Homo sapiens: one gene and its partners. The protein of the gene in region 1 purifies or fractionates together with the protein of each later gene. This does not show direct contact. Each region holds a gene or a part of one and is shown in the gene's direction. Other genes may lie near its edges.

Region 1 (7,343 bases):
CACAGAAAGGCAACATTGAGGCTGGGGGTAGCTGGGGAGGAGAGCCCAGGCAGGAAGGTTTCCTGTGGTCAGAAAAGCCAGGAAATGACCCTTAAAGCCAGGGGAGGCAGAAGGCTAGACGAGCTGGCCTCCAGGGGCCCCGTCACACACCTCAAACCAGCCTCAGCACTGGGCTGGTCCAGAGGGCTTGGAGGGAGCAAGTCTGGCTAAGGCCTTACCTTAAACCTTCTGGGCAGGGCCTGGGGAGGGCATGGGGGACCCCAGGGCTTGAACTCAAGCTCCAGCCCAGGCTCTCGGCACTGTGTGATGCCAGGCGAGTGTCTGTCCCTCCATAGACCTGGATGACCTCTGTGAGCCCTTTACATCTTCTGCATGCCTGCCAAACACCAAGTCTGTGTCCTCACAGACCTTAAGCCACAGGCCAGGTTGCAGGAAACGGCAAGGGGAAGTCTATTTTAGGCCCAATTATAGCCAATGAGGAGTCCTGCCTGGCAAAGGCAAGTGAGCTGGCATCCCAAGCTGGGTCAGAGGTAGTTTGCTGGGCTGGACTGGGGAGGGAGATAGTGAGCAGGCATCAGGGATAAATCGGGCAGAGCCCCTGCTGCCCAGGGCAAACAGTGCACCAAGGGAAGGGAGAGGAGAGAGAGCTCCTGAGCCCAGCGTCCTGGAAGAAGCTGGTGCCCCCGATATGAGGTCTCAGCAGATCCTCATAACACGCTTGGATGGGCGAGTTCTCAGAGAGGTGAAGTCACTTGCCTAAGGTCACACAGCCTGGCAATGGCAGAAGTGGGACTTAACCACTATCCATGTGACACCAAAGCATATATTCTTCCATTTTCCCCTAGATTTCTCTTCTCCAGGCTCCTTAATCTCAGATGCTTCAGCAAGCCACCTGCCTCCCTGGGCTTGGCTCACACTCCCTAGCTCTTGACCTGCTCATGTTCTGGGCCCAGAGGGTAACTGGACTGCAAGTCTCACCCTGACAGTCCCCAGGGTCCCCACCAGCCCCATTGTCTGCAGTTCATGGCTCTGGGTTCCTCTCTCAGACTCACCATGGGAACAAGAAAACCCTACACTTGCCTCCCTGAGCACCAGTCAGGTGGGCAATAGAACCTGGGATGGATGGAACTGAGAGTGCTGGGCCTCCCATGAGGGAGCCAGTGAGGCAGTCACCAAAGACTTGACACCTCCACCCCAGTGGGATTCCAGACCCAGGCCAGGGTCTGGACCTAAATGCAGGTTGAACCTGGTCCTCAGACCCAGACAGCCCCAGCTCAGCTTCTGGCCTGGCCCCAGGCTGAGCCCTATCCTGGCCTCCTAGCCTCAGTTTCCCCTCAGACTGAGCCCACCCTCCCCTGGAGCTAAGACACAAACACAGGACAGCAGCCCACCTTCTTAGGGTTAGGACTTGGCCCGCTGGGGGTTAGCCTAGGATGGAGCATTGAATTTTATTTTTTTTTTTTTGAGACGCAGTCTCGCTCTGTAGCCCAGACTGGAGTGCGATGGCACAATCTTGGCTCACTGCAACCTCCACCTCCCGGGTTCAAGCAGTTCTCCTGCCTCAGCCTCCCAAATAGGTAGGATTATAGGCGCCCACCACCGCACCTGGCTAATTTTTTTTTCTTTGTATTTTTAGTAGAGATGGGGTTTCACCATGTTGGCCAGGCTGGTTTACAACTCCTGACCTCAGGTGATCCGCCCACCTCGGCCTCTCAAAGTGCTGGGATTACAGGCGTGAGCCACCGCGCCTGGCCTGGAGCATTGAAATTTAAGTATGAGCCTGCTGTTCCTCCAGGCTTGTACTGTATGTACTTCCTTTTGGAATTCTAGCACAGCCAGCAAGCAGAGTGGCACCCACTACCTTTGGTCCATGACTCCAAGGCAGTCATCTACTCAGACCCCTGCATACAGCCACACTGTGGTGGCTCTGATTCTGTGACCCAGGATCCCCACCCCAGGCAGGGCCTGGCTGGGGCATGGCACCTGTACCCCTGCCTCCAGGTCCCCATCACAGCTCGTCCCAGTTTACTGGGACCTTGTGCTGTGTACCTACAATGAGGTGCACACATTCTCTGGGCCCACTTGCCCAGCTGTACCATGTGAAGTTCAACAAGATGGTCTCTGAGGTCCCTGAGCTCAGGGATTCCAGTGCTGACTCCATGGGTTCAGTTGAGATGCCAGGATTTTATAAAGCCTGTGATTCTGAGAGTCCTTTGTTCTCAAGCCTGTGGTTCCCCAAGCTCCATAAAAAGCGAGTCTAAATCTTTCCTGTGGCTTCCACAACTCCTTCCCTGTCTACTCACTGTGGAGCAACCCAGATGCTGGTAGACTCTCAGGGAGGAGCCCACGTCACAGTGGTTTCAGGGTCAGAGCTGGCTGCAGGAGGAGCTGGCGCATCCACCCAGCAGTAAATAATAATTAGGCTCCCTCCTAACCTGGGGGTTGCAGGAGCGAGAAGTGTTTGGGCTGTGGCCCCAGGAGACCTACTCTATGGAGCTGCTGCCAGGGCAGCCAGGTAGCCGCCTCCCACAGAGAACTTCAGGCAACATGTCTGGCACCCCAGTTTTCAGATGAGGAAACTGAGTTGGGGGTGGATTTGATGAAAACCTCACAGAGAGCTGGTGGTAGAGAGGGGCCTGGACCCTCTCTGGGATGTCTGATTAATAGCCAGTGCTCCAAAAAGCATTTCCCCATTTAGTTTATTGATTGAGACAAGGTCTCACTCTCTCACCTAGGCTGGAGTGCAGTGGCACGATCGCGGCTCACTGCAGTCTCAACTTCCTGGGCTCAAGTGATTCTCCCACATATTTTTGTAGAGACTGGGCTTCATCATGTTGCCCAGGCTGGTCTCGAACTCCTGGGCTAAGTGATCCTCCCAACTCAGCCTCCCAAGGTGCTAGGATTACAGGTGTGACCACTACACCTGGCCTTCCCCATTTGGTTTATTGAGTGACGACACCTGAAATTGCCACCATTTGAACTCTAGAACCTAGAGCTGGGGTGTAGATGGTCCCCTTACAAAGAAAACATTTCCAGGAGTGGAGGCATTCTGGATGCTCTGGCCTTCCGTAGGCTGGGATGTGGGACCCTGGAAGAACCCCTGCCCCAGCCCTGGAGGTCTCCATTGACATATGAGGGTGCTGATGTCATGATCCTGACATCAATGACCTGTAGCTCCTTATGCCCTTCCCCCACAACCTGAGCATGACCCAGGGAAATGAAAACTCATCCCCTGCTCCCCTCCCCATGCGGTGTCCAGTTCGCCTCCTGGAATCTCCTGGACCCTGGGGACCTGACCTTTTCCGTCTCCTAGCCCCTGGGTTCAGATTCTATGACTGTTTAGAACCCCACCCCCAGCCATCTATCCCCAGCTGACTTATTTACCTTCCTTTCTCCATCTCTGTCATGGGCTGTGATTATCCTGACCCCAGCCAGGCCTCTGGCCCAGCACTAGGTCCTCCCTGGTGTCTCAGTCTCCCATCAGCCCTACTGTCCCAGGAGGACCGCCTGAGATCCCCTGAATAGTACTGAGAGGGGGAACGGGCCACTGAGCTGCTCCCTCCAGTCCTGGCACACCCTGTAGCACAACTCCAGGGGACACGATTCGGAGTCGGAATACAGTGTGAATACTGCCTGGAGTTTGTGATGACTGGCATTGGAAACTGGCAGGGTGGGATGGCTGTAGTAGGGAGGGGGGCACTGAGTCACCTGTCCTGCTGGAGGGAAACTAACTACCCTGGCACAGAGAAGTGGTGCGGGGAGTAGGGGAGTGGAGGCAGGAGACGCCTCCTGGAGGATTTCACTAGGCCTTGAAGGATGTGCCGAAGCCCACCGTGTGGGCTTCCTTTATAGACTCACCTTCACCAGGCCTTTTCGCCAACTAGGTGAGGGTTTCCAGGGTTGGGCCTGGGCCTCGTCAACAAAGCAAAGTGAGGTTATTCTTCCTGGCCACCAACTGGCAGGAGGAAGATGAAGCCCAGAAAGGGGCAGAGGTGGCTCTAGTTACACTGGCAATGCTGAGAGGACCCAGAGGAGTATCTCAGTCTCCAGTCTCTTTATCTTGCTTCGCACAACTCCTTGCTTGGTTCAGAGCCTTGAAGAGGCGGATACAAGAGGCCCTCTGGGCACCGCCGCCCAGTCCCGCGCAGCCCCCTGCAGTTCCCAGGGGCGCGAGAGAGGGCGACGTAGAGCAGCACCGCCCAGCGGCAGAGCGGCGAGCCCCTCCGCGGCTCGGGGTGAGTCGGGCGCGGGGCGCAGACCGCGCTCTGACGTCGGGGGCGGAGCGGCCGTGACGCGCGGGGGCGGGTCTGCGCACCTTCCCGGCCCAGCCGGCGATTCATTCAAAAGGCGCGCAGGCTGCGCGGCTGTCCGGGCGCTCGCCGAGCCGGGCCGCGGCGCCGAGTCGAACGGGGAGCCGAGCTGGAGCTGCCGCGGCGCAGCCAGGTAAGGAGGGCGCGCGGAGCGCCCATCCAGAGTCTGCTCTCCGCGGCCGGGCCAGCGGGATACGGACCCTAGTGGCGCCCCCTGCCTCCCCGTGTCTCTGAGGAAGTTCGCGGGCTCGGCGGATGCGGCAGCCCGGCCGCGCGCCCCCCCACCCCACTCCTCCCGCCTCGCGTCCTGTCCCGGCGCCTTCCGCGCACCGGCCACCGCCAGTCTCCGAGCCCCGTGACCTGCAGGTCCTCCGGCCGCGACTCCGGGCCGGCCCTGCGTGGTGGCTGTCGGGGGGCGCGCGGGGAAGCAGCGGAACTTGCGGTGTGAGGGGCCGGCGGGGCCCGGAGCGGTCCCCGGCCCGGGAAACTTGGACCGAGACCAGGTTGTGGTGCGGGCTGGACGGCGGCGCCTCGGCGCGGCTGCGGCGCGGGGCGGCCAAGGGGGGGTCTGGATGGTGTCAGCCCGTGACTGTGGGTGACACGGCGCGTGAGGCGGCCTGGCCGGGCGAACGTGTGGCTGGGACACTGGGCGGTGACGCCGGGCCGAGCGGGCGACACAGAGGGGCTCTGTGTGTGGGAGACAGGCAGCGTGTGTGCGTGTGTTGTGTGAGGGAAAGACCCGGGGTCACTGGGGTCACGAAGTGCGTGGCTTGGGGCGTGACCGGCGCAGGGCCAGGGCCACCCGTTACTGTGAGTGTGAAATAGAGGGAGAGGAGCCCAAGTGACTGAGAACGAGCCGAGCTCGCTGGCGCCATGGTGTGCGTGTGGGGTCAAGTGGTGTCAGTGTGTGTGTGTGTGTGTGTGTGTCTGCGCCTAGGGTGATGATGAGTAAGAGGCAGGAGGAGGAGGGACCGGACCTAGGACACCTTCCGGCAGATGTGGGGCGATGAGGAAGTTGGGGAGCCAGGAGACAAGGGTCTCCAGGACTGTCCCCACGAGGGCACCCCTCAGGAGTTCAGCTTGGTGAGGAGATGGACCCTGAGGGATAGGCCCTGGCTGAGGGAGAAAGCCGAGGCTGGGCAACATCTGGTGGGGTGGCCCAGATGGCAGCAGGGTAGGGGCCCTGTGGTAGTCTCAGCTTCCCCCCGCCCACCTGCATCCACACACTCACGCATCGAAGTCCCTACACCTGGCAAAGTTCTGCCCCTGTGTAATCTGTATTCTCAGCGGACCCGGACACAATCTTGTTCTCAGACCCCCCCGCCCCCCTCCCCCGCGCAGGCCTCAGTCTCCCCATCTGCACACTGAGGTGCTGGGCTTTGAATGGACTGTGAATCATCACTTTGGGATCCTCTATTGTTTTGGGTCAACTGCCTGTGTTCTCCCTTCCCTTCAGGCAGAAAGACTGCAGTGGGGGGTGGGGGCAGGCTTCTCCTGGGGACACAGCGGCCCAGGGGCTGCACTCAGGGGCTACTGATAGGGTTGGAAGCACAGCCTTCTCCAAAACTGGTCAAGGAAACGTTAGCCTCCCACCCAAAGGCTTCCTGGTCCTCTGTCACGAAATGGATCCATAGACAATATGGATCCCCAAATCCATAGACATTCACTTCTCTGCCTGGGTGTCCTTTCTTCAGTTCCTTGGGTTGGGGGAGAGTGGGGAGAGACTTGTTCCCCAGGAGTGGTCTCTGGTCTGGGAGGCTAAGTTCTTGCTGGAGAGCTGGAGCGGTACCCTTTCGCCATCTGGGCAAGACCCTTCTGAGGCCCCTTCTCCCGTATGAAGGTCTGTGGGGTTCATGCAGGGTGGGGTGGAAGCTGAGCTCCCTAGTCTAGGAGAGGGTGGCACTTGCTGTAGAATCTGGAAGTTCTGTCTTCTGCTGTCGTCCTCTGAAAATGCTGATTACATTCTAGGGGTGGGGGACAGGGTGGGGGACAGTGTCAGGCACTGTTCTGAACACTTCATGGTGTTCTGTCTTGTTGAATCTTCGCAGTGATTCTGAGATGTAGTGACTGTGTTTCAGAGAAAGGAACTGAGGATCAGAGAAGCAAAGTGACTTGGCCAAGGTCATACAGAGTCAGGACAGTGCCAGGACTGGAATTCAGGTCTTCTGACCCCAGAGACCAGTGAGATGCTGGGAGAGAGGATCACCCACCTTCCTAATAACTGCTCATGGCTTTCCTGGACTTCTGTCTCTCAAACTTGGGCTAGTAGGCGTGGCCTAGCCAGGGCATTACATTGTGAGTTCTAAGTATGATGTGTGTGTGTGCACACATGTCTGGAACACTGGGGATGGGTGGGTTACATGGTCTTCCTGTTCCTCCCCAGACTTCACTCCCAACCAGACATCACCAGAAAGTCCTGTCCCCTGCCTTCTAGAGCCTGGACCTGGCTTTGGGGGTGTCCCCATGGCTTTGAAGAGTGTATGGAGTTAGCAGCACAGCCTAGGGGTAGCAGGGAAAATTGAGAGTCCCAGGTGACCTTCATCATACTTGAGAGGCCCCCTCCCCTTTGCAGTTGCTCTAGAGGCATTTCCCCAAATCCACCTGCATGTTATGGTGGGGAGCAGACAGGGAGTGACCTTGAGCTGGTCCCTACTCTCTCTGGGCCTCGGTCTCCCTGTTCTTCCCAGAGACCCCTTTTGGCTCTGACCACTGTTGCCACTTGGCCAAGAACTGGAACTGGGGATCAGGGTGTCCCTCGGTCCTCTCTGCAATGACTGGAGCTGTGCTTCTTGGGGCTGATGAAAATAGCTGTCGTGGTCTCTAGGGGCTGAGCCGGAGTTATTTCCATCCTCAACAAAGAGGTGGAAATAGCTTAGGGCCTGGGAGGGGGAGCAAGAGGAGAAGGGTTAACTTCTCCTTATCCCAGCCTTAAAGGAGGCCCCCAGCCTCAGCCTGTGCCCTGGCCAAGCCAAACCTTTCTGGGAACTTGGGCCTCTGGGGATGACAGTGGGGCCAGGCTGGGTTTCCACTTGT
Region 2 (4,105 bases), on another chromosome or scaffold:
CCTGTTAATTACACAGGTTGTCTGCCATTATTCAGTGGGTTGAGTAAATGATGTTAACAAGAGCTACACATGAGAGAGAAGGGATGATTTAGGAAGGTAGATAAAGAAACAGTGATAACACAAGGAGAAAATGGATAGGGAAGGTGAATATTACAGTGTCAGTGTGACACCACCAGAAATACCTCAGCCAAAATGCCCTCTATGCCTGTACTACTTTGTTGAAAGTGATAAGGAGAAGAGCATTTCAGACCTCATCGCCCCTGTCAACACAAACAATGACAATTTTACTTCTCTGAACATCTTTATCTGTCAGATGAAACCAGAGATATCACTGGATAGGTACAAAGTAAATTCCTTTCTTTAAATACTGATTAATATTTTTATCCTTTAGGCTAGTGACTTTTTTACATAAGCATAACTACTTACATAGGATGTTATTTTAAAGATAATCATTTGAAAATATTCAAGGTACAAACATTATAGTTAGCTGATTATTTAATAGAAAATGCTAGAGTTGATGCTGGTTTTCTGTACTGTTTTTTTGAACAGTTCAAAAAACAGTACACTATGAACAGTACAGTTCAAAAAACAGTATAGTACATATTCTAAATGTATACAAGCAGTGCTATGCAGCTTAATTGTGGTGATTGGAAAGGGCACGTTTCCATGGGAAACTAATTGTTGTGACAATAATTTAGCAGGAATTAGGCTCTGAAAAGGTTTGTATGATCCTTTGGTAATTAATTGCCCATTCCCAGTCATTCATCATACTTTTTTCTCCCTTCCTTGTTGTTCTTATGTAATGTCCAATTCTGATTTATGTACTATAGGATGAGAGGCAGCTTAGAATGGTGGATCTGAGGGGGCGGGGGGGGAGAGAGAGAGAGAGAGAGAGAGAGAGAGAGAGTGTGTGTGTGTGTGTGTGTGTGTGTGTGTCTAAAAGCAAGCAAGGGGGAGAGGTCACAAGAAAAACGAAATAACTTATTAATTAGGACCAGTGAGAGGTTTGAAGGGAAATGGCTTCCTTTTTTTTTTTTTTCTGAGGTGGAGTCTCGCTCTGTCGCCAGGCTGGAGTGCAGTGGCACGATCTCGGCTCACTGCAACCTCTGCCTCCCCGGTTCAAGTGATTCCCCTGCCTCAGCCCTCAGCCTCCCAAGTAGCTGGCACTACAGGTGTGTGCCACCAAACCTGGCTAATTTTTTGTATTTTAGTAGAGACGGGGTTTCACCATGTTGGCCAGGATGGTCTCGATCTCCTGACCTCATGATCCACCTGCCTCGGCCCCCCAAAGTGCTGGGATTACAGGCGTGAGCCGCCATGCCTGGCCAAGGCAATGGCTTTTTTCCAGTTCTGTCTGATTCTGAAGTAAGAAAAATAAAGTATTTGACACACCATAATTTTTGCCAATTTTAGGCAATTAATATGTCTGAAAATATAAACAAAATTCTTTTATAGAAAAGAATTGTTATAATACCTTTCCCTGTAAAACTTATTCACTGGTATTTATATAGCAGTTCTCTCTAATGAGCCCATCGCAGTACTTGGTGATGACTTTTTCCTGGCAAGTTTCATAGAAGAAATGAGTTTGGTAAAAACTAAATTACTCCTGGGTGACCTGTTAGATCTCTTCTGCTTATTTTCATGTTGTTCTCAGAATGATTACTAAGGTGATTTAGTTAGAAAGTATATTTAAAATAATTTTATTTAGTTTTTGAAAAATTTGTTTGTGGTTTCTTAGCAGGGGTGTTTCACTGACTGTTCCAAAGCTTCCAGCCTGGGCATGGTATTTTAATGGATAACAAATCCCTTCCCACCTCTGTTCTGTACTTCATAGCATGATGGCCACAGTGCTGACAGCACTTAGCTTCCAGTAGTCATTCGAGAGAGTGGCTGGCGTCTCTCTTCTGGAAGAAATGGGACACATGGTCCCATACCAACTGTGCCTTTGCTTAGATCTGCCATCATAGGAACAAGACTTTAACAACCAGCAGCAGCAGCAAACCAGCATTGAGGCTTTCTTTTTCCCTTTTCAGGCTTCTGGCTGTGATGGGTCGGAGATTCCTGATGAAGTGAAGCTGATTGGGTTTGCTCAGTTGAGTGTCAGCTGATGTATGTCCCTTGATGTCACCCTGATCTGTCATGCCCCACCGCCACCCCTACTCCCTTCAACCCTCCCTCTTTCTGCCCATTTCCTCCCACCCCCTCACTCCCATTTCCTAGCAAAATCAGAAGATTGTGAAGAGGCCGGCTTCAACAAAATGGGATAAAAAAATAATTTTTTAAAACTTACAACACTCCGAGTTCTGCTTTATTCTCTAGCAATCCACAGTACAAGAACAAGCAAATGCCACAGCTGCACGACTGTTGCTCATTTTTCCAAAAGCTATTTAATATTCTTAGCAATCAATTTGGATATCCCTTAAGTGAAAAGAATCTGAAATACACTCAGGTGGTCTTATTTATTGGCAACAAAAGGAATTTTCTATCCAGAAGCCTATTTCTCCTTTCATTGTTGTTATTTCTGTTATAATACTTTAATTGTACATCTGACAATACTGCCTCTTTTATGTTGTATTTAGAAATTAATATACTTATAAAATTAAGATTTATTAGCCAAACTTGAATTCTAGTTTTAAAACTGACTGTGAATTTTATTTTTCATATATTTATGCATTACACACCTTAGCTATAAGAAAAAAAGGGTTTTGATTATATGCTTCTTGCAGTTAATCTCGTTATTTAAACAAAAAGTTTTGGGTCTGTCTTTGGAGTATTTGTAACTTCTAAATTTTGAAATGACTGAATTAGGAATTTGGATGCTTATTCTTTTAGTCTGTTTGCCTAAAAACCAATTTACAATCTGACTGTCTCTTGGGAGAGGGAGGTGCCTTGCAAACTTTCACATTAAGAATGTGCCTGAGGCTGCTTTACTCTGGAATAGTCTCAGATCTAAAATTTCCTCTATATAAGGTGGCATATGTTAAGTTTTGCTTCATTGGACCGTTTAGAATGCTATGTAAAATGTTGCCATTCTGTTAGATTGCTAACTATATACCCATCTCTGATTTGGCTCTCCTTAAGTGATAGGATTTGTTATTCTAAAGGTGATAAACTTGAAAATATCAGAATCTGAGTTTTACTTGAAATTTTGCAGAATACCCAGGTGGAGTGAAAATTGGAAGGGTTTTGTGCAATGACTAAAAGGTAAAACGCTGTTAAGGTTCAAGAATCAATACTTTCAACCCAAGTAGCCCTCTGCTTGACTGTATATTATGGAACTAGTAAACCTTAGGATTTTGAAAATTGGAGTCTAATCTTTCAAGGAGGTGGGCTCCCAGGATGGTACCATTGCTCTTTCCTAGCTAACCCTAGATATGGCAGCTCTTTAATGTACTTCAAAAAGCAAATATATATTACTAAGGAAAAAAAGTTATTTATAATTGCCTTGTCATAATTGTTAAGGTGTTCTAGAGCCATTTGCATACAATTTAATGTAATTTCATTCCATTCTATTGTTTACACAACGATTACTCGAAGATGACTGCAAAGGTAAAAGGAAAATAAAAGTGTATTGCACAATGAGATTGTTTTGCATTGTTTCTTTCCTCCTTTAGATATCATCTGCATTACTGCAATGGCATTTAGCACTTTCATAAAATGCCTAGTAAGAGTTAACTAGTGAAAGTGCCCTAGAGGCAGAGTGAGGAGGCATCATGCATCCAGTACAGAGAACTGGGTTTGACAAGTAACTTGAATTAGCATGAGGAGAGAATGAAAGGCAAACATTTCTACTCCATATAGACAGATGGTCTTCGAATTAAAACCCCTATAGGGCTATAGGGGACAAGAGAGAATGATTCCTTCCAACCACTTCATTCATTTTAATGCTGTTAGTCCCTGAGGCTCAGAGTGGTTGAATGACTTGTCCAAGGCCCTTTACAGGACTACTTGCAGAGCTAAACTCCCAGGATCCTCACTTCCTGACATTCAGAGCATGTTCTTTACACTCTTCTGTACAACTTGTGGGTGAAAAGACAAGACCCTTATCTTCTACTAAGAGGATAAAATGTACATGAATAACTGGAGGACTTTGCAACATGGAGAC
Region 3 (6,975 bases), on another chromosome or scaffold:
TGTCATATATTATGTATATTTCATATACATATGTCATATATTATGTATATTTCATATACATATGTCATATATTATGTATATTTCATATACATGTCATATATTATGTATATTTCATATACATATGTCATATATTATGTATATTTCATATACATATGTCATATATTATGTATATTTCATATACATATGTCATATATTATGTATATTTCATATACATATGTCATATATTATGTATATTTCATATACATATGTCATATATTATGTATATTTCATATACATATGTCATATATTATGTATATTTCATATACATATGTCATATATTATGTATATTTCATATACATATGTCATATATTATGTATATTTCATATACATATTTCATATATTATGTATATTTCATATACATATTTCATATATTATGTATATTTCATATACATATTTCATATATTATGTATATTTCATATACATATTTCATATATTATGTAATTTCATATACATATTTCATATATTATGTATATTTCATATACATATTTCATATATTATGTATATTTCATATACATAATATATTTCATATATTATGTATATTTCATATATTATAGATTTCATATATATTATATATTTCATATATTATAGATTTCATATATATTATATATTTCATATATTATAGATTTCATATATATTATATATTTCATATATTATAGATTTCATATATTATATATTTCATATATATTATATATTTCATATATTATAGATTTCATATATATTATAGATTTCATATATATTATAGATTTCATGTTATATATTTCATATATATTATAGATTTCATGTTGTTTCATATATGTTATATATTTCATATTTCATATATATTTATATATAGTATATATACTTCATACATATTGTCTATATTTCATATATAATACATATATAATTTCTTTTTTTCTTTTTTGAGATGGAGTCTCACTCTCTGTCGCTAAGGCTGGAGTGCAGTGGCATGATCTTGGCTCACTACAACCTCTGCCTCCTGGGTTCAAGCGATTCTCCTGCCTCAACCTCCTGAGTAGCTGGGATTACAGGCGCCAGCCACCACGCGTGGCTAATTTTTGTATTTTTAGTAGAGATGGGATTTTACCCTGTTGGCCAGGCTGGTCTCGAACTCCTGACCTCAGGTGATCCACCTGCCTGGGCCTCCCAAAATGCTGGGATTGCAGGTTTGAGTCACCGTGCCAGGGAGAAAAAAACAAAACAAAATAAAACAAAACAAAACAAAAACAAAACTGAAGTATGTCCATGGGTCATACAACTCAACAACCCCAAGCCAAGAATTTCTGGTTTGTAGACCTTTCTATTGGTACAAACCTTGAGGCTAATTCTTACCATCAGATTTAGCTCCTTTCTGATACATTTGATCCCCATCCCTCTCCTCCCTGCAAAAAGAAAAAGGCAGAACATATGGTAAAGAAACTGTCAGTAGTAATGGCTGAAAACCACTTACAGCAAGGCCTGTGCTATGCTTTCTGGAACTGCGGCACCTTTGCTGAGCCTGGACTATTCTATCCTCTAAATGTGCACCTGTTGAAATCATGTTAACTTTGCAAGATCTGGTACAAATGCTACCTTCTTCATGAAACGTTCTCCAATCCAACCAACTAGGTGGAAACCCGCTAGTAGCTTCTAGTTGACTGGTTTCATGGTCAGTTGGACCTCCCACAGCAGAGCTCAGCGCAGAGCTTCCAGTGCTTGGCGGTGTTTTAGAACCAAACTAAGGTCTACTTGCCCAGTGCAGTGACATTAGATTGCCACACGGAGGTTTTGCTGCAGTAGAAAGGCAGGGCGCCTAGCAAGAGGGGAGAATTAGTGTAGCTCAAGCTTAATATATATATAAATATACATTATATATAATACATATTTCATAAACTTATGAAATACATACTGGGGACCTAAACTTCCTGGCGTGAGCCACCGCGCCCAGCCAAGCATTCTTAAAGATAGGGGTAATTTCGGAAAAGAAGAAGTTACAGGTAAAGTCATAAATCAATACACAGAGGTTATACATTGGTTTGACCTAAAAAGGGGGGACATCTCCAAGCAGGAGCCCACAGGTCATAGGTGGATTCAAAGATTTTCTGATTTGCGATTGATAAAAGAGGTGAAGCTTTGTCTAAAAATTTCGGATCAGTAGAAAAGAATGTTAGCTACAGCTTGTGGGCATGACCTTCTTCAGGAAGAAGAAACTTAGAGAAAAAACAAACCACCAGTCAGAGTTCAGTCCTTAGCTCCCCATTCTCTGAGGTCTATGTGCCAGCAGATCCATTTGGTGGGGGTCTGGGTTTCTAAAAAACAACTCAGGGACATGTGTTGATGTTATCTTTAGTTTTTATAGGGAACCAAACATCCAGTTATTTTAGTTTCTTTGGCTAATGTTTAAAGTTATTACTGCCCTCTTGCTTATCAAGGGGTTCATTAACTTTTCAAGGCTAGCTAAGTGCCGGGAATTTCTCTTGAAGTAACTCAAGATTTTCCTTTATTTCCATGGTTGAGGGCCTGCAGGCCCTAAAAGGGGTCCCTGCTCCGTCTCAGCTGGGCCTAGGTGAAGGTCTCTTCCTTTTTCTGAGACGGTGTCTCCGTCTGTTGCCCAGACTGGAGTGCAGTGGCATGCTCTCGGGTCACTGCAACCTTCGCCTCCTGCTTCAGCCTCCCTAGTAGCTGGGATTACAGGCGCCAGCCACCACGCCCAGCGATTTTTCTGTATTTTAGTAGAGAGGGAGTTTCACCATGTTGGTCAGGATGGTCTCGAACTCCTGACCTCAGGTGGTCCGCCCGCCTCCGCCTCCCAAAGTGTTGGGATTACAGGCGTGAGCCACCGCACCCGGCCTAAGGTCTCTTCCTTAAAGACTGCCGTTGGACTGAAAGGTGTCCAACCTAGAACAGTTTCGCACCTAGCCCTATCCCTGTTGGATGCTCATTATTTTTTAAAATCCAATTTACCAAGCGTGTTCAGTCTTCAGCTCGCTAATTTCTCTAACGGCCGTACGTAGTCAAACTGAGAAAACTGTTCAGTGGGGGCGACAAAAGCCAACGCCCGTGAGACAACCCCCAAATCCGTGGGTCGATCTCACTTGTTTAATACCCCAAGCCCTGTCCGGGGGGAAGAAAGACAACCTCCCGAGTCCCTCAAGGCAGGTGCTTATTTGAGCTTCAGATCTAAAGCTGCGAATGGACAGAACCCGCCCAGTGCAGGGTGGACCCGCGAGAGACAGCGCCGCGACAAGCGTTAGAGAGAACGTCCGCCTTGAAAAAAATGTCACCAGGCAAACTTCCAGTTTCACTCCGACCAGTGGCCCAAGGCCTTTTATCCTAGTTGGCAGTGGTCCACACCCAAAGGCTACCCCACCCAGCCGCTCCCTCAGGGTTTCTCCACACCCTGTAGAGCCTTTCGCACGTCTCGAGGGTGTGACGGTTACGCCGTGACGTCACTCCAGAGGAAGTGGTAAGACGAGCGCGGTAACGGAGCTCTTGAAGGGCTGCAGCCCTAACACGGAGAAGCGCGCTAAGAGCCTGGAGGCGGGACCAATTTATGACTGACGTCTACCCACACCCATTGCTTTTCTGATTCCTTCTCAAACAAACCAATGAATGCGACGACGGAGACAGCAGCGTGCCCCAGGCGCTAGAAGTGGCTCTGCCCCTTCTACTTTGCTGCCCTTTGGTCGCCATGCTTAGTGTGGCTACTGCCTCTGTGCTACTTGAGGCTCTCCTACGGCTTTTCGATGCCTTCGATGAACCTCTACCTAAGCACTTCTTCCCTTTCACCGCGAACTCCTACCTTCTCGGGTTTCTAGCTTGCTCACTTTACATCCAGCCACACTGGAGATGGCGGCCGGAGGCGGGCCCGAGGTGGGGCGTGACCAGCGCAGTGACGTCAGCGCGCTGCGTGTCGGCAGGTGGAGGAAGAGGGGAAAGTTTGGCCCGTGCGTGGGGCTGGGGTGGAGGGCGGGACAGAGGGGCTGGGCCCAGGCAAAGCTTCTGTCGCTGCTGCTGCGGAGGCCGAGGACAGGACGTGGGCTGGGCCGGGCAGTGCCGGACTCGGAGGAGCAGGAGGCGAGGTCCGCCGGAGCTCTGAGCCCCCGCTGCTCTGCCGCGCGGTGACCCCGCGCCCCGGCGCCGTCCGACCCGTGGCTGTTCCGAGACGATTGGTGGGGGCGCGGCGGCGGCGGCGGCGGCTGTTGGGGGTGGGGAGACGCGCGGCGAGGAGACGAGCGAGGTCAGCGAGTTTGAGGGAGGACCGCGAGCCGCTGCCGCCGTCATGTCCGAGGACTCGAGCGCCCTGCCCTGGTCCATCAACAGGGACGATTACGAGCTGCAGGAGGTGATCGGTGAGAGCAGGCGCTGCGGAGGGGGGAGGCGCGGCGCTGGGAGGCGGGGGACACGGGAACGTGGGGAGCCGCGGGAGCTCGGGGAGCGCAGCCCTCATAGGAATTCGTGGGGCGCTTGTGGGGCTGGGGGCTTGTAGGACGCTTGTGTCGAGGAGCGCGTGTGAGACGGGAAGGGGGTTTTGAGGCGCGCGCCTGTGAGGTGGCGTGGGGTGGGGTGAGGCTTGAGGGGGCTCAGGAGAGATTTGTGTACAGGATTCTCAAATGTGTGGACAGGAGCGGCCCATGTGTCTTGTAGAGAAAGAAAGTGCAGGTGTGGGACAGGCCTTTCCGAGGCTGTGTGAGAAATGGGATCTTGAAGTGGGCACAGCCATCGATTTCTGGGATTGTGGGATAGATAGGGAGCTTTAAGTTTTTCCTCCATCCGTGCTGGGGCGAACTGGGGATCCTCCAGGTGAAGCTGCAGGAACCGCGCTGAGCAACCGAGACCCAACTTACGACTCCTTCCAACTGACTTTCCAGTCGGGGAGGTAGACATTAAATAAGAAGACAAAAAGAAGTAAGAAGGGCTGGGCGTGGTGGCTCACGCCTGTAATCCCACCACTTTGGGAGGCCGAGGCGGGCGGATCACGAGGTCGGGGGTTCGAGACCAGCCTGGCCAATATGGTGAAACCCCGTCTCTACTAAAAATACAAAAATTAGTTGGGTGTGGTGGTGCGCGCCTGTAATCCCAGCTACTCGGGAGGCTGAGGCAGAAGAATCCTTGAACCCGGGAGGCGGAGCTTGCAGTGAGCTGAGATCGCGCCACTGCACTCCAGCCTGGGCGACAAACCCTGACTCTGACTCAAAAAAAAAAAAAAAAAAAAAAAAATTTGAAGAGGCTTTGGCAAGTGCCATGAAGGAGATAAACAAGATGTTCTGATAGAGAATAACCTGGAGATCTACTTAGGGTGATTTCAAGGAAAATTCTTTTTCTGAGGCGATAACATTTCAGTTGAGCCCTGAAGCATGAGAAGTGAGGATTAAGAGCCTCGGGAAGATTTTTCCTTACAGAGGGATATAGAGATGCAGTGGCCTTGAGTAAGGGAAGAGCTTGATTTGTTTTAGGACCTGAAGGAAGGCTGGCAAGGATAGAGAGGGAAGGGAGGAGCCAGATCTTAGGGATCTTCTCAGCTTTGGTACAGATTTTGGAATTTTAAGTATCACTGGAGGCCCTCAAATAGTGCCTTGACGTGATCCGATAAATTGGGCTGGTGTGTGAAAAGATTTGAAGGGGGTCCAGGAATACCAGTTGGCAGAGACCAAAACTTGCACATAGATTGTAATTCTCACAGAAGCCTAGGGATTGGGAGGAGGCTGGGGACTGGGGATGAGGGGAGTATTTGTTGGACAACAATAACCCAGTGACCTTGGAAATCAAAATGTTTAGCTATACAGGCTCAATCCAACGGACATGAGCAGACACCTGTGTATTGGAGGAAGGCGAATTATCTGCTTTGCCAGCATCCTGCCCTAAAATTAGTTTTATAACAAAGACCAACTGAAGACTTCCTAGCTGCCTTGGGGGTGTCAGTGTTTATTTCACTGTGGGTTTAAAAAGAACTTCGTGAAATAATTTTTGTTTTTACTTGCCTCTTGTTTTAAGACAATCTGGGCTTAAAGCAATATTGGTTCGTATAGGAAAAACAAAAACAAAACAAAACAACTCGGACTAAATAAAGACATCACATCTTTGCTTAAGCCACTTCATGGGCCTGTGTCCTTGCTACATATTGGGTCTTTGACATGTATTCGTTGGTTCTAAAGACAGCTAGTTCCCGGTCTGGACTGATTGCTTCTGGTTCCCCCAGTCAGAGTTTCATATTGAAGGAAAGGATTAAATGGAAGATTCCAAAATGATGTCAGAGAAGTAAAGAGGAGGTTCCCTATCATCATTTTAAAAGAAGAGTTTTTTTTTTTTTTTTCTGGTAGTGTATCCATCTTTCTAGGGTGAAGAGGATGGTTGTAGTCATTCTCAAAGCCTTTGCTGTTAAGGTGGCAGAGAATTTCAGAGTTGCAAAGGCGCTAGAGATTTCGTGATTTGTTAATTTGGTGTCCTCAGACCCATAGGATGTCTGTGAGTGGGCAAAAGGGAGTCTCTCAGTCTTCTGGATAGGGTTAGTGTTCCTCACATTCACAAAGTGGTCCATGGTTTTTAAAAGGTTAGGAACTCCAATGTGATTTGACCATCTTTCATAGATTTAAAACAACTTTACTGAGGTATAATTTAATATAAAATTCACCCATTTTAAGTGTAACATTTAGTGGTTTTTAGTAAATTCCCTGTGTCGTACAACTATCACCATAATCCAGTTTTAGAATATTTCCATCATCCCCGTGAGATCTCTTGTGCTTTCTTACGAGTTAATCCCTTTTTCCACCTCCAGCCTTAGACAACCACAAATCTACTTTTTGTCTCTATGGACTTGCCTTTTTTGGACATTTATATAAATGGGATCATATAACATGTGGTCTTTCATGTTTGGTTTCTTCCACTTAGCATAAATATTTTTTCATTTAAAAAAACAATTTTGAGATATAATTTACGTACCATAAGATTTACCTGATTAAA
Region 4 (7,640 bases), on another chromosome or scaffold:
GTTTGGGAGGCCAGGATGGGTGGATCGCTTGAGCCCAGGAGTTCGAGACCAGCCTGACCAGACTCTATAAAGAAATACAAAAAATAGCCGGGCATGGTGGTGTGTGCCTGTGGTCTCAGCTACTCAGGAGGCTGATGTGGGAGGATCATGTGAGCCCAGGAGGTCGAGGCTGCAGTGAGTTGTGATTGCACCACTGTGCTCCAGCCTGGGTGACAGAATGAAACCCTGTCTGAAGGAAAAAAAAAAAAAAGTGATGAGACAGAATGAGACCTCAAGAGTTCAAGCACTGCTTGGGGCTTGTCTAAAGTTCTGACAGGAGGCAGGGAGGCAGTGCCAGCAGAGCAGGCTGAGCAGTGGCCAGCGAGGGAGGAAGACGGACGTGAGGGAGGAGCGCTTCCAGGATAGGGAGGTCACATCTGCTCAATGCCGTTGAGAGGTCAAGGAAAATGACTTCTGACAACAGATTATCGGATTTAGCAACTTGGAAGGAATTAGTGACCTTGATAGATTGACTGGTAGAATCAAAAACCAAACTGGAACAGGTTCAAAGGAGGATGGGAGGTGAGGGGAGAGGGTGTGTGTGTAAGCAGCTCTTTTGAGATGTTTTGCTGAAAGCAGGGATAGAAATGGCCCATAGCTTGAGGAGCAAGTAGAAAATAGCCTAACACGAGAAGGTGAGACTGTGGAAGGTGCAAAATCAGTGTAAATCCATTAGCACTATGGCCAAAATCATTCACAAGGTTTTTGCTGAGGAATTGGGCGCCCCCATTGCCATCCTTAAAAACAGGGCAACATCATAAGTAGTAATCTGGAGCACTATTTTCTTTCTACAGTGCAGAATGGGTACATGATAATCTCTGGGCTGAGCTGTTATCTTTTCTGGGTCCCTCTACCACCTTCGGGGTAGTGATGTGAGCAGGAGGGACAGATGCTGTCTCAGGTGGAAGGGTAGCCACACCCTTTCCCAAAAGTATAGGAACTGTTCCAGATCACTTTTTGGCCTCACTCTGGAGGGCCCAGGCTATTTCATTCTAAACCACTTGGCCCATCCTTGTCTAAGATTCCCTCTGGTTCAGTGTGTGGCTGGAATCTGGCTTTTTGTGTCCCTGATTTGTGTCCCAAGCAGCATTTGAACTTTTTTTTTTTTTAAGAGACAGAGTCTATGTTGCCCAGGCTGGAGTGCAGTGGCTGTTTACAGGAGCCATCAGAGGGCACTGCAGCCTCAAACTCCTAGGTTCAGGGGATCCTCTTGCCTCAGCCTCCTGGGATTATGGGTGCAAGCCCCCATGCCAGGCAGATTTAGAAGATTTTGAACAATGAAGTGTCTGTAATGCTCAGAGGAGCAAGCACACCTATACAGGGAGCATGGGGTCTTAGTAAATTCTTGCTGCACTCATAGCTGGGGGAAGAGCAGTATAGAGAAACAGAAGGTTTGAGGAGGGAAGAGGAAGAAAGGCCCTACCTCAGCCTGCCAAGTAGTCCTCACAACGGTCAGGAAAGTATTTATCACCCCCATATCATAGGTAAAGAAACTGCCAGGCTGGGAACAGTGATGCACACCTGTAATCATAGCACTTTGAGAGGCTAAGGCAGGTGGATCACTTGAGCCCAGGAGTTCAAGACCAGCTTGGGCAATGTGGTGAGGCTCCTTCTATACAGAAAAGTACAAAAATTAGCTGAGCATGGTGGCACATGCCTGTGGCTCCAGCTACTCAGGAGGCTGAGGTGGGAGGGCTGCTTGAGCTCTGGAGGCAGAAGCTGCAGTGAGCAGGGATTGTGCCACTGTACTCCAGCCTGGGTGACAGAGCCAAGACTCTGTCTCAAAAGATTTAAAAAAAAAAAAAAAAAAAAAAAGGAAACTACCTTGCCTGAGGCTCTAAATCTAGTTACTGCTTCCAACCATTTCAGGATTCAATTGGGAAGAGGTGGTGTTTGAACAGGCTTGGGGGCCCTTGATGCTTGCATCAACTTAATTCTCACTAAAAAACAAAAGTCTGCGTCCGGACGAGGTGGCTCAGGCCTGTAATCCCAGCACTTTGGGAGGCTGGGGTGGGTGGATCACCTGAGGTCAGGAGTTCAAGACCAGCTTGGCCAACATGGTGAAACCCTATCTGTGAGAGGTGACAGCATGCTGGCAGTCCTCACAGCTCTCGCTCGCTCTCAGCGCCTCCTCTGCCTGGGCTCCCACTTTGGCGGCACTTGAGGAGCCCTTCAGCCTGCCGCTGCACTGTGGGAGCCCCTTTCTGGGCTGGCCAAGGCCGGACCCGGCTCCCTCAGCTTGCGGTGTGGTGTGGAGGGAGAGTCGTGGGCGGAACCGGAGCTGCGAGCGGTGCTTGCGGGCCAGGGCGAGTTCCAGGTGGGCGTGGGCTCGGCGGGCCTCGCACTCGGAGCCGCGGCCGTCCCCGCCGGCCCCGGGCAGTGAGGGGCTTAGCACCTGGGTCAGCAGCTGCTGTGCTCAATTTCTCGCAGGGCCTTAGCTGCCTTCCCCCGGGGCAGGGCTCGGGACCCGCAGCCCGCCATGCCTGAGCCTCCCCCCACTCCATGGGCTCCTGTGCGGCCCGAGCCTCCCCAATGAGCACCGCCCCCTGCTCCACGGCACCCAGTGCCATCGACCACCCAAGGGCTGAGGAGTGTGGGCACACAGTGCGGGACTAGCAGGCAGCTCCACCTGCAGCCCCAGTGCGGGACCCACTGGGTGAAGCCAGCTGGGCTCCTGAGTCTGGTGGGGACATGGAGAACCTTTATGTCTAGCTAAGGGATTGTAAATACACCAATCGGCACTCTGTATCTAGCTCAAGGTTTGTAAACACACCAATCAGCACCCTGTGTCTAGCTCAGGGTTTGTGAATGCACCAATCAACACTCTGTATCTAACTACGCTGGTGGGGACTTGGAGAACCTTTGTGTCGACACTCTATCTAGCTAATCTGGTGGGGACATGGAGAACCTTTGTGTCTAGCTCAGGGATTGTAAACACACCAATCAGCACCCTGTCAAAACAGACCACTCTGCTCTACCAATCAGCAGGATGTGGGTAGGGCTAGATGAGAGAATAAAAGCAGGCTGCCCGAGCCAGCAGTGGCAACCCACTCTGGTCCCCTTCCACGCTGTAGGAGTGTTGTTCTTTCGCTCTTTGGGTCCACACTGCCTTTATGAGCCGTTAACATTCACTGTGAAGGTCTGCAGCTTCACTCCTGAGCCAGGGAGACCACGAACCCACCAGAAGGAAGAAACTCCAGATGCGCCACCTTAAGAGCTGTAACACTCACCACGAGGGTCCGCGGCTTCATTCTTGAAGTCGGTGAGACCAAGAACCCACCAATTCTGGACACATCTGTACTAAAAATACAAAAATAAGCCAAACGTGGTGGTGCATGCCTATGGTCCCAGCTACTCAGTGTGGTTGAGGCAGGAGAATTGCTTGAAACTGGATGGCAGAGGTTACAGTGAGCTATCACACCACTGCATTCCAGCCTGGGCGACAGAACGAGACTCTATATCAAAAAAAGAAAACAGGCCAGGCGTGGTGGCTCACGCCTGTAATCCCACCACTTTGGGAGGCAGAGGCGGGCAGATCACAAGGTCAGGAGATCAAGACCATCCTGGCTAACACAGTGAAACCCCGTCTCTACTAAAAATACAAAAAATTAGCCGGGCGTGGTGGCAGGCGCCTGTAGTCCCAGCTACTTGGGAGGCTGAGGCAGGAGAATGGCGTGAACCTGGGAGGCGGAGCTTGCAGTGAGCTGAGATTGCACCACTGCACTCCAGCCTGGGCAACAGAGCAAGACTCCGTCTCAAAAAAAAAAAAAAAAAAAGAAAACAGAAAAACAAAATTCTTAGTATAAAAGTCTTGAAATCACAGAGTTCTGACTTTGACTGCCCCTGCTTCTGGGAGCTACAGATCATGCTGTGGGCTGCCTCCACGGTCTGGTAACTCAAGGGTGACCGGGGTGAGGCACAGTTCCTTCAGAGCTACCTAGCTGAGTGTAAATGGGTTGTTCAAATTGCACTAGGGAGCCGGAGTTGCGTGGGTTTTAATTTAAAGATGTAAGTACAAATCTATGTGCATTGTAGAAAATTCGGAAAAGGTCCAACTGCCTAGCAAGTAAAAAGCTGTCATTCCAGCACGTGGGGGGTGACCGCTTCTCCCTTCTTGGGTGTTTTTTGGTGGATTTTTTTTGGTGACCCCGACTGGCCTAGACTCCATTCAAGGGCACATCTTGTGCAGTAAAACACGCATGTTTCAGGGCTCCTCACTGCAACACGTGCACCTCCAGGCTGGCGCTCAGCGCTCCCAGTAAAAGCTGCAGGCGGCGGTGTAGATAGTCGCCGGCCTTTCCTCCTCCCCACCTCGTGACGCTTTGTGCTGCGGAAGCAAAGGCCCGTTCCATTCCCCGTGTCTTCCCAGCAGCCGCCACCAATGCTCCTTTCTAGGAAACAGCCTTCCATTCTCTCTTAGGGCCGATCTTAGCGAGAGCCGCGATGCGGGCGACTGGTGCCGGGGTGGGTTGGGGGCGGGGGTGGGAATCAGGCCCCACTGCCAGGAGCCCGGGCCGCGCCTTCCGCTCTGACCTCATCCGGCCGCCCAGGCACTGGGCGCGGCAGCGAATCGGCGGCGCGGGCGGCCGGGAACGCCCAGCACAAATATTTACCGCCGCGCGGAGAGTGAGGGCCCAAGTCCGCCCTGCTCCGCCACTTAGGCCGCCCCAGACGCTTCCCTCGGGGCTGCCACCGGGTCGGGCGCGGCTGCCGCGGCTAGCGGGCCTTCCCCGCACCGGCGCGGCCCAACCGCCACCGAACCTTCTGGAAGCGGCGGCTGCCTGGGCCCCCACGCCGCCAGAATCGTACGCCCGCGCGAGCTCTCTGCAGCCTTGGCGGCCTGGGAGGCGGGGCTCGGGGTGGGGCCGGCGCGGGGGCGGGGTCGGCGCGGGGAGGCCGCGTTCGATTGCCCCCGGCGCGCAGGCCCCGCCTCACCAGCCCCATCGCTCCACCTCTGCCCTCCCCCTTTATGGCGCGGCCCGGGCTCATTCATTCCGCGCCGGGCCTGCCAGACACCTGCGCCCTTCTGCAGCCGCCCGCCGCATCCGCCGCCGCAGCCCCCAGCATGTCGGGCCCAGACGTCGAGACGCCGTCCGCCATCCAGATCTGCCGGTAAGAGAGGGCCCGCGCGCAGCCTGCAGCGGCCAGGCGCGCCGGTCACCGCCCCAGGCCTGCCCCGCTTGGCTCTGTGGTCCCCACCCGCCGAGGCCGCCCCCGCCCGCCGATTCCCCGCACGGCCTTCCGCGCCGCCGCCCCGGACGCCCGCCCGGCCGGGATGCGACTCGCGATGCCGCACAAGCCGGGCGGCCCCCGCCCGCCTCCAGCCGGCTCCTCCTGGCCGCATCTCCAGGGCGGCGGCCGCGCCACGGGCCGTTTGGGCGAGAAAGCCAGGCAGGGACGGGGCGGGCGGAGGTCAATGCACAGCTCCAGAGCCCGGCGACCGGCGCCCGTGGGCCGCCCCGCCTCGGGCCTCGCCCGAGCATCCCGGAGCCTCAGCCCCGTGGTCCTGCTTAGCCTCCTCGAGGATTCGGGATCATTACCTCGGCGGTTGTGCTGCGCTAACCAAAGCCCCCAGAGGTGGAGGGGAGGTGCCCAGAGCCGCGCGAGCCCCTCGGTGGGTGCCCCTGTGGGAGGAGGTTGCAGAGCTACCGTCTTCAGTGCACTGCTTCGGTTTGGGGGAGGGCAGGTGTTGAAAGGAAGAACAGATAATACTGTCTACCTCTAACAGTTTACTATGAAGAAAAGGGAATCAGTGGTCTGTTGGGCCTGAAAGCATCTTACACAATAGAGGCAAAGGGTTGTCCTTCTAGAGCACCCCCTCTTCTTCCACCAGGTACTGAGTAGATAGATGCAGGCCCCCAGAGGAAGCTGGAGGCTGGAGATCATGAACAAGCTCATTTCCCATAGGAGGTGGGGAGGGCAGCCTGAAGGTTACTCTGCAGTTCTCTTCGGCAGAATCGGAAGCAGCAGGCTGGCATTTGTGCATGAGCTAAGTGAGGACAAGGAGTCTAGGTTTTCAGCCACTGCACACAGGCTCTGTGGCCTGCGACCGGTCCTATCCTGCTTGATGAACTACCAGGAGTGAGAGCTGCTTTCTGTTTTGGTAGTGGGTTCCTCACATTTGGGGGTTGGGCATCACAGACTGACCTTGGGCTCAAGCCAAGTCCAATAGAAGCAAGTTACTTTCCTGTAGATGTTGACATCTCCAGGAAGGCTGGGCATATAGCAAGTCCTGGGTCTATGGCGATTCTTGACTCTCAGTCTCATCTTCTGGCCTGGTCGAGGGCCTCTCCTTACCTCAAGGTCGGTTTTGACTTTTCCAGAGGGGGAACGTCTTTGGGGGAGCCCTGCCCCTTTGACTTTGGCTCTGTGGCTGTTCTGGTCCCATCGACTCTGGAGGTGGGGAAAGCGGGGCAAAAAAAAAAAAGGAAATAACTGGAGACAGACAGCCTGCATCAGGTTCCTGAATCAGCTCTGCTGAGTATTGGCTGGGAAACTTGGGCTCCATGGTTTGCAAAGAGCTTATACCTGTCTCATCCCACTTGGTTTGCCCAATTCCCTGGGAGGTTGATGGTCGGTAGTGCCACCCTTACCTGTGTGGAGGAGGAAATGGCAGTTTTGGGAGTTGAGTAACTGTGTAAGGTCATCCTGCTCCAGGAGATCCAGGGACAGCCCCTGCCCAAGTCTTCTGACTCCAGATCCAGTATTCTTCCCACCCCTCTCCTGAATAAAGGAAACCTTGATTTAAATCTTCCCGTGGAAGGCTGGCCTTTTATTTACTTCTTCAGGGTGGTGAATAGCCAATTTATACATGTTGTCTTTTTTCACCCAGCTTCTAACAGTTACTAGATTTTTTGTTTTTTGAGACAGAGTCTCACTCTGTCACCCGGGCTGGAGTGCAGTGGCCCGATCTCAGCTCACTGCAACCCCTGCCTCCTGGGCTCAAGTGATTCTTGGGCCTCAGCCTCCCGAGTAGCTGGGACTACAAGAGTGCGCCACCACGCCTGGCTAATTTTTGTGTTTTTAGTAGAGATGGGGTTTCTCCATGTTGGCCAGGCTGGTCTCGAACTCCTGACCTCAGGTGATCTGTGATCTGCCCTCCTCGGCCTCCCAAAGTGCTGGGATTACAGGTGTGAACCACCGCACCCAGCTGGAAAAAGTTCTTGTGCCTCAGCCTCCTGAGTAGCTGGGACTACAGGCGTGCGCCACCACGCCCAGCTAATTTTTGTATTTTTAGTAGAGATGGGGTTTCATCATGTTGGCCAGGCTGGTCTTGAACTCCTGACCTCAGGTGATCCTCCCGCCTCAGCCTCTCAAAGTGCTGGGATTACAGGCGTGAGCCACTGCTCCTAGCCTAGTTACTAGATTTTTGTATAGCTTTAGACACTTCCATACAGTAAGTGTGTGCTTTTTGTTTGTTTGTTTGTTTGTTTTTGAGACAGTCTCGCTCTGTCACCCAGACTGGAATGCAATGGCACGATCTCAGCTCACTGCAACCTCTGCCTCCTGGGTTCAAGCGATTCTTCCACCTCAGCCTCCTGAGTTGCTGGGATTATAGGTACCCGCCATCATGTCTGGCTAATTTTTGTATTTTTAGTAGA

The links.
Region 2: the proteins of RELT (region 1) and STK39 purify together in Homo sapiens (affinity purification with mass spectrometry; 4 studies listed by BioGRID and IntAct, with this or other methods). This does not show direct contact.
Region 3: the proteins of RELT (region 1) and OXSR1 purify together in Homo sapiens (affinity purification with mass spectrometry; 4 studies listed by BioGRID and IntAct, with this or other methods). This does not show direct contact.
Region 4: the proteins of RELT (region 1) and ACOT7 purify together in Homo sapiens (affinity purification with mass spectrometry; 3 studies listed by BioGRID and IntAct, with this or other methods). This does not show direct contact.

The regions. Positions count from the first base shown.
Region 1 is NC_000011.10:73,372,057-73,379,399, forward strand, and holds the start of RELT (tumor necrosis factor receptor superfamily member 19L isoform 1 precursor), read left to right. Parts: upstream 1-4,342; 5' UTR 4,343-4,443; intron 4,444-4,611; exon of another isoform or gene 4,612-4,813; intron 4,814-7,343. UniProt on the Homo sapiens protein: May play a role in apoptosis. Induces activation of MAPK14/p38 and MAPK8/JNK MAPK cascades, when overexpressed. Involved in dental enamel formation.
Region 2 is NC_000002.12:167,953,499-167,957,603, reverse strand, and holds the end of STK39 (STE20/SPS1-related proline-alanine-rich protein kinase), read left to right. Parts: exon of another isoform or gene 1-2,027; intron 2,028-2,033; coding exon 2,034-2,108; 3' UTR 2,109-3,582; downstream 3,583-4,105. UniProt on the Homo sapiens protein: Effector serine/threonine-protein kinase component of the WNK-SPAK/OSR1 kinase cascade, which is involved in various processes, such as ion transport, response to hypertonic stress and blood pressure.
Region 3 is NC_000003.12:38,161,580-38,168,554, forward strand, and holds the start of OXSR1 (serine/threonine-protein kinase OSR1), read left to right. Parts: upstream 1-3,957; 5' UTR 3,958-4,297; coding exon 4,298-4,367; intron 4,368-6,975. UniProt on the Homo sapiens protein: Effector serine/threonine-protein kinase component of the WNK-SPAK/OSR1 kinase cascade, which is involved in various processes, such as ion transport, response to hypertonic stress and blood pressure.
Region 4 is NC_000001.11:6,390,768-6,398,407, reverse strand, and holds the start of ACOT7 (cytosolic acyl coenzyme A thioester hydrolase), read left to right. Parts: upstream 1-4,640; 5' UTR 4,641-5,008; coding exon 5,009-5,151; intron 5,152-7,640. UniProt on the Homo sapiens protein: Catalyzes the hydrolysis of acyl-CoAs into free fatty acids and coenzyme A (CoASH), regulating their respective intracellular levels.